Homo sapiens: one gene and its partner. The protein of the gene in region 2 purifies or fractionates together with the protein of the main gene of each other region. This does not show direct contact. Each region holds a gene or a part of one and is shown on either strand. Other genes may lie near its edges.

Region 1 (3,500 bases), about 150 Mb from region 2:
ATAAGGAATTTTCATCTGCATTAAAAACCTGCTCAGGAAGAAATTATTTCCCCTCAATGATTTTCTTGATGGCATCTGGGAATTCATCTGCTGCCTCTTGGTCAGCAAAAGCTGCTTCTCCTGTTATCTTAATTTTTTTTTTTTTAGGCCAAACCTCTTTCTAAAATTGTCAAACCATCCTTTGCTGGTATTAAATTCTCCAGCTTTAGATGATCTACCTTCCTTCTGCTTTGTCATATAGTGACTTCACTTTTTCTCCAATCATATTAGAGTCTATAGTATTCCTTTCTTATAGCAATCTTGCACCCATATAAAAGCTGCATTTTAATTTTAAGTATGAGCTATAAAAGTATTTTGTAAAAAGTGCAAGGTTTTCATGCCTACTGGCATAGCTGCAGTGAGGGCTTCACAAATTTCCTTTTCTTTTTTCACAATGGCTCTTATGCTGGATTCACTTAACTTGAAATGGCAGGCAACTGAAGCTGCAGACCTCAATCCGCAGTACATATCAAGCAATTCAACATCTTCTTATAATGTCATGACTTGTCTTTGCTTGTTAGAAGCATTTCCAGCATCAGCAGTGGCACTCAGTATAGGTCCTACGGTTTTATTCAAGGTTTCTGATATTGCCCCAAACATGATGAAAAATATGCAAGAGCTGTGAGAGATCACTTTTGACTACAGTATGCAATTTACTGGAGAGAACTGCTCACGTGGAGGTTGTTAGTGTCATGTGGCATTTTCAGCAGATATTCACAAGACTTGAGCTCACCTCAATGGTGACAAAAGGTGGCTATAAAATTATTACAGTAGTACAGTATTACTACAGTTAATTTAATGCAGTTATGACTTAGTACTGCATATTTATGTTTGTTTATATTTCTTGACTGTGAATGGCACCATGTTTGGTCTATGTTTGTATATGTAAATTTTGATGAATTTTAACTTTTTATAATAGATTTGTGCATAGTTTAGGGCAGCAAATGAAAAAATAGACTAGTATCTACATATATTGTATGCATTCATAATGTATCTAACTTTTTCTTAATTTTTAAAAATATTTCTAGGCTATGTGGTTCATCTGTGAGTTTTTTTTTTCAAATTGTCAAAAATCTCCCCCTAAATTTTCCAACATATGTTTTTAAAGGCCTGCATACATATAGACCCATGCAGTTCAAACCCAAGGGCCAACCGTATTATATAAAATGAAAACGCCTGCAGCTGCTTCTGCTTTCCAGGTTGGGGATGGGGACCAGAAGCATATCTATTAGTGGGAAAATAATGCCTACATTGTTCCTTTCCACATCAACGAGACTGCTAGGGGAGGAAGAAGGAAAGAGCAACATTGTAAAGCCTCTATCATTTGCCTTAGTTGGAGTAGATAGGCCTTCACTTGCCGGAATACAATAATGATCTTTGAAGGTGCAAAGGTAGCCCCACACCCTAGCAGGGAGACACAGTTAAACTGCTCTGCTAAACAAAAAAGGGACAGAAAGAAGCCAGGGATTAAAAAGCATAAGAAACATGGAGAAAGACTGGGGTAAGGCCTTATGGTGATGTAAAACCATTCAATATTTCTTACCTTTAGTAAAACCTGCCACATGCAATGTCTTGAGTGATTGGTTCTGGGGGGAAAATGACAGGAAAGGGACTGATTTCCATGCCTGATTGGCATAGAGCCAAAAGAAGAGAGCAACAGCAGTTGGTGATATCCAGGTATGACTCAGTGTTCTTTGGAAGCTGGAATTATGTGCCAGAAGTGACTGTGAGAATATTACTCCTCCACCCCCTGACCTGGAATTGAACCTCTGACAGAGAGTGAAATGCAAGATTAGACCAACTGGTTTAAATCTCAAATGTGAAGGTGACCAAGGCCAATAGCTGGGTTACATTTGGAATTGTTTCCCTTCTCTTGCCTTTACAAATAAGAATCTTCCGTGTACCTTCATAAACATTTATCAAACTATATTGCCTGCACTTGTGTGACTATATTTTCTGCTAGACAGGGGGCAGAGACTGTACCCCTCTTGTTCAACACTCAATAGTCAAAACAATACTGAACATATGTGTTAAAGGAATAAAGCTATTCAAAGGCACATGCCTACATCTACCTACTCTTAAGTCCATGATCTTTTCCCTTTATCAATAGCCTCTCTTCCAACTAAGGCTACAATCCACTTAACCTCAGCTGGCAGTTACACTCAGTTAGAACAATAAACTTCATTTATCATAAAAAATAAATTCCTCACTGGATCATCCCAGAATTCCTCCATGTTGTACCCCAAAGGCACACAAATGGCCTCCTTACCACATTCAATGCAGGTTCACAGAGTAACTAACTCTTCAGAGTTCTCCAAATGATGATATGAATGCCATTCAGTAGCTATGATCAATTATGGAAAATGAAGGTAAGAAAACAGCTTACTTTTCGGGGCATTCCTAAGCACAGTAGACAAGAATGCTCCAACAGACTATGTTGTGCATTGAAAAAAAAATTTTATCACATCATATAATTAAGCAACTGTGAGAGGCTTCTTCATTGAATTTGTTTTCTAAGAAAAAAGCAAGGGCCTTTTTTAAGGACATAGGTTATCCTTTCCTGCTTTTAATTATGTCACTCAGATTTTTTTAATATTGACATTATTGGCTTCAATTAAAGTTGTATCATCACACAAATTAAATGGAACCACCTAGAACAAATATTAGCAAGTTTCTAAAACATGAAAAATAGATACTATCGAAATAATAGCTTTATTTTGGCTCTAAGATTTGGCTGTTTGAAAATTGACTCATATTTGGCCTTACCAGAGGAAATCCAATATCACACAGTAAATTTCACCACTTTTTTTAAGCAGGAAAATATCAAGTTGGAAAGGTGAAGTGACACTGAAAAATGGATTGCAGAAAAATCCTCTCATAATGGGAGGAAGGGAGAGCAGATAATGAGGGATCCTGATTAAACACAACGCTACTACCCAGCAGTGAAGTGAAGCACAAAGTGTGCAGAGAAAATCAGATCCTGACAGCCAGTTCTGCACTGTGCCTATAATATCAATGGAAAAAACCTCAGATGTAATCCTTGGTTGGTTGTTCCTACTTCATTTCCTGAACAAATAATTCAGTACTCCTTTATTATACACTGGTTGCTTAATCAGAAACTTGGTTCCAAAACAACCAAGAGAAATAGGAACATTGCCCTCACACACAGATCACAATGCACAGGGCTCCTGTCACATGAGTAAAAATCATGCACAGTTAAAAATGGACTTTCTTTCCCCTGTCTTTCATGTCACAGGCTTCATATTGATGGGGAAGCTGCCTATTAGGGGAATAGATGACTTCTCATGTGTATTAATGAAAGCAATGTATTGCAGGCTGGGTAGCTGGTAGAAATGTTGTGGGCGTTTGTAAGTGGAAGATTTACGCCATTATAACCCTAATATATTCCTGCAGAGTAACAACACAGCCTATCTAATATACAATGATGGAGTCCCTAAACC
Region 2 (3,500 bases):
ACATGCACATATTAGGAATTTATTTGTTTAGGCCTTCATCTTGTCATTCTTTAGGCTAGTTCTTAAAGGTGGTACTAGCTGGTCTACCCCCCTCCAAATCTGACTAGGGCTTTAACCACTTATACCTATGTTTATTCTTTGGAACACTTGCTGTGAATCAGAATATTGTTAGCTAGAAAATAAGATGTTAAGGGCACGGAAAAAAACCCCACAAAATATATTGGCTAAATCCACTCAAAACTGGAGAAAATACTGTGTGATCTCTTAGGCTCACTAGCCAAGGATGTTCCTTGGGACTCTCCTCTGCACTGCGGTTATTTACATATATACATTAAACATAAAAATATTTCTGAAATAGTGTTATAACTAGTCAGCTAAGTAAAGGAACTGCAAAACTATATTCTTATATTTACTGTGAAAGATAATCAGAAAGAATCTGCTTTATTTAGAACTTGACTAGTCAGTAGTTAAGTATACAGAATGTTCTAGACCTAATGAACTGAATACAGATAAATACAATTTTGTTGTTCTTCATGGAAGAGTGACATTTCAGTAGATCCCCACTCTGCCAGGGGAAGGAATTGTCAAGGTGACTTATTCTTTTGAGCAAGTTCTGATAGTAATTGGAAACTGGTGAATTAGAATGGTAATTAAAGCCCAGTGAAAAATGACCTCCTACTGGAAAAACTGGAGGAATACAGAAGGCTAAAAATAGTGAACACTTAATACCAACAGATTTTCTGAAGGAAGACTTCTTAGTTTCTCTAAATGGGAAATCTTACATTATCCTCTAAAGGAAAAATAAGCAAGTAGTTGAGGAAACTATGTTTTTTTTTTTCCCCCTTTTTCTTGAGACAGTCTCACTCTGTTGCCCAAGCTGAGGGCAGTGGCGTGATCACGGTTCACTGCAGCCTCGACTTCCCAGGCTCAAGCAGTTTTCTTGCCTCAGCCTTACTAGTAGCTGGGACTACAGGTGCATACTACCAGGCTTGGCTAATTTTTGTTTTTTTTTTTTGTAGAGATGAGGCCACTGTGTTGCCCAGGCTGTTTTCGAACTCGTGGACTCAGTGATCCACCTACTTTGGTCTCCCAAAGTGTTGGGATTACAAGTGTGAACCACCACACCCAGCCCAAGTAATGGATTTTTAAGGGCCTCAGTTGCATAGGAGTTTTTTATTCAGGCTGCAAAATTCCTGTGTTTTATTATATATTCCTTTTTATCTGTATTTTCTATTCACAATTCTCTTGTTTCCATAGACCGCCTTTTTCACATATATCCATATATTTATACATTTTGTTGTAAACTCTAGTCTATAGGTATTTTTAATTCACATTGTATATTACATTCTGGAATGTACAAGGAACTAACACAAATCAATAAGAAAACAAATTAGCTTTAGACATTGAAGAATCTCCCCCAACCCATCGTCTATTATTTTTGTCTATGGTGACTTTCGTTTAACAGAAATCCTTGGTTTTTATGTAATCAAATTCATTGTGTTTTTTTTTTTTAAATTAAGAGGTTGGTCTTTTTGAGTCTTAAGAAGTTCCTTTTCATTCGAAGTCATAAAGTTCTTCCCAATAAATTATACAATAAGTTTGTCAGGTTTCTGAAAAACCAAAGCAGATGTTTTTAAACAGCTTTTGATCTCTTGCCTATACGGTGGCTCAACAAACAAGATGCCAGAATTTGCATGTGTGGGGCTGGGTTGTTTTGTGGTAAATAGTGAACTGTCTTAAAGTCCAAAAACAAAGCTTATTATTTCTGGATTGAAAAGGGAATACAGTAAGGGCCCCATGGAAAAGTACTAAGACTTTTTATGAAAATGAGGGGTGGAGGCACTCTGAGTGGTTAGATTTGCTCAACTTGTGTGCACTCGCTCAGTGGAGGAGATAGGAAGAAGGACATGTAAATAATAGGATATTGATTGATATTGATTAATCATTTTGCCGATGCCAAAGGACATACTTCACTGTCTGTGGAAAAGATTGCCTTTTTCTCCCTAGGAAGTTTGAATACCTTTTAAATATGAAATTTCATGTGCATGACCTATTTCCCCACTGCCACACCTCATGCTCACACTAGGCTTATGATTCAGTCACCCACTTAAGTTCACGTGATGTCATTTCAGGGAGAATTGCAGCTACATCCTTTTGAGAAGAAAGCGATTCAGCTGGGCATGTAGGTTAGAGTCTTTAGTTCTTAGTCTTCTCATTCCTCCTGTGAAATTATCTACATTTAACAGCTTTCACTGAGTATTTTCTTCTTTCACTCGACTGTTAGAAGACATTTCCCAACCTGCAAATATGCCATTCCTGCCCCAACATGACCAACTGAGAGCTTCAGGCTTTACATGATTTTTCACAGCCCACTGAGCTTTGTAATATATAGAACACAATCTTTAGAGCTTCAGTCCTTGCTGTGCTATAATACCAACATAATAAGAGTAGCTAATATTTATCAGATGTTTACTATACATCAAACACCAATGTCTCATTTCATGACTTGTGTGACTTAAGAGGTCCAGTTCTTAACACATGGTCTCATTTTAGTATCACAGTTCTGATGATGAAGGCAGGGCTGATGTTTCCTCATCTTGCTGAAGCATGGAGAGGACTTGTCTAAAATCCCATAGCTACTAAGGGGAGCTGGGGCTAAAACCCAGATTTCTTGGGTTTTCACACCCTGCTACTATTAGCTTAAGCCTATCAAATTCTGAGTGCTTATTGGCTGATAGGATAGTCACATCATGGAGTGCCTAAATTAACACTACATGTGAATTTACCGTGTCGACTATAGCTTGAAATGGCGCCCACTGCCTGATGCCTACCAGTCTTTCTATTATACATGCTTCATTAAGCCCTACCTTTTCTCCACATTTCCCAAGAAGTGATTTTCTTTGGTTCTTGAAGTACTTTTGTACAGATCATTGGAGCTTAACTTCGTTCCTTTATCAGGAAGTGTTTTATCTCACCTGCAAGTTCAGTAAACACAATTAGCAAGTGAGGTGGCTTTGGAAAGGAATAGTACACCCTGAAAGAAACATAGTGCCCAGAAACTAGATATTGGATATTGCAAATTTTTCTTTTAGGTTACTAGAGCCACCTTCCTGAAGCCCACTTGGAGAAAGTCACTCAAAATAGTTCTGTGACCACCATTTAGCCCCAGTTCTCATATTGTATACTTGAGACTCTGGACAGTAAGACGAGGCAGGGTTGTAAGTTTGCACCCAATACCAGCTTACAAATATTCTTACATTACTGGTTTGGGTTTTAAATTATCTTTGCCTCTTCTTTCTCATCTTCCCTCACTTTTTTGTCATTTCAATTAAAGAAATATTTGCCAAGTACTGACCTTAGTGTTGCTAGGCATGAGTTCCAAGGAGCTCAGATAGCTTAGAACCAGCCCCATTTGACTTGAGCTTTTCTCGCCTCTTAGCACAGAAGGAATGGGTTGGCGTCATTATGGTTTGTTTTGAGTAACATGTATTCAGTCTGAT

The links. Proteins that work in one complex are often made in the same cells at the same time.
Region 1: the proteins of MTR (region 2) and DNASE2B purify together in Homo sapiens (co-immunoprecipitation; one large-scale study listed by IntAct). This does not show direct contact.

The regions. Positions count from the first base shown.
Region 1 is NC_000001.11:84,404,984-84,408,483, forward strand, and holds part of DNASE2B (deoxyribonuclease-2-beta isoform 1 precursor), read left to right. Parts: intron 1-3,286; exon of another isoform or gene 3,287-3,453; coding exon 3,454-3,500. UniProt on the Homo sapiens protein: Hydrolyzes DNA under acidic conditions. Does not require divalent cations for activity. Participates in the degradation of nuclear DNA during lens cell differentiation.
Region 2 is NC_000001.11:236,798,292-236,801,791, forward strand, and holds part of MTR (methionine synthase), read left to right. Parts: intron 1-3,500. UniProt on the Homo sapiens protein: Catalyzes the transfer of a methyl group from methylcob(III)alamin (MeCbl) to homocysteine, yielding enzyme-bound cob(I)alamin and methionine in the cytosol. MeCbl is an active form of cobalamin (vitamin B12) used as a cofactor for methionine biosynthesis.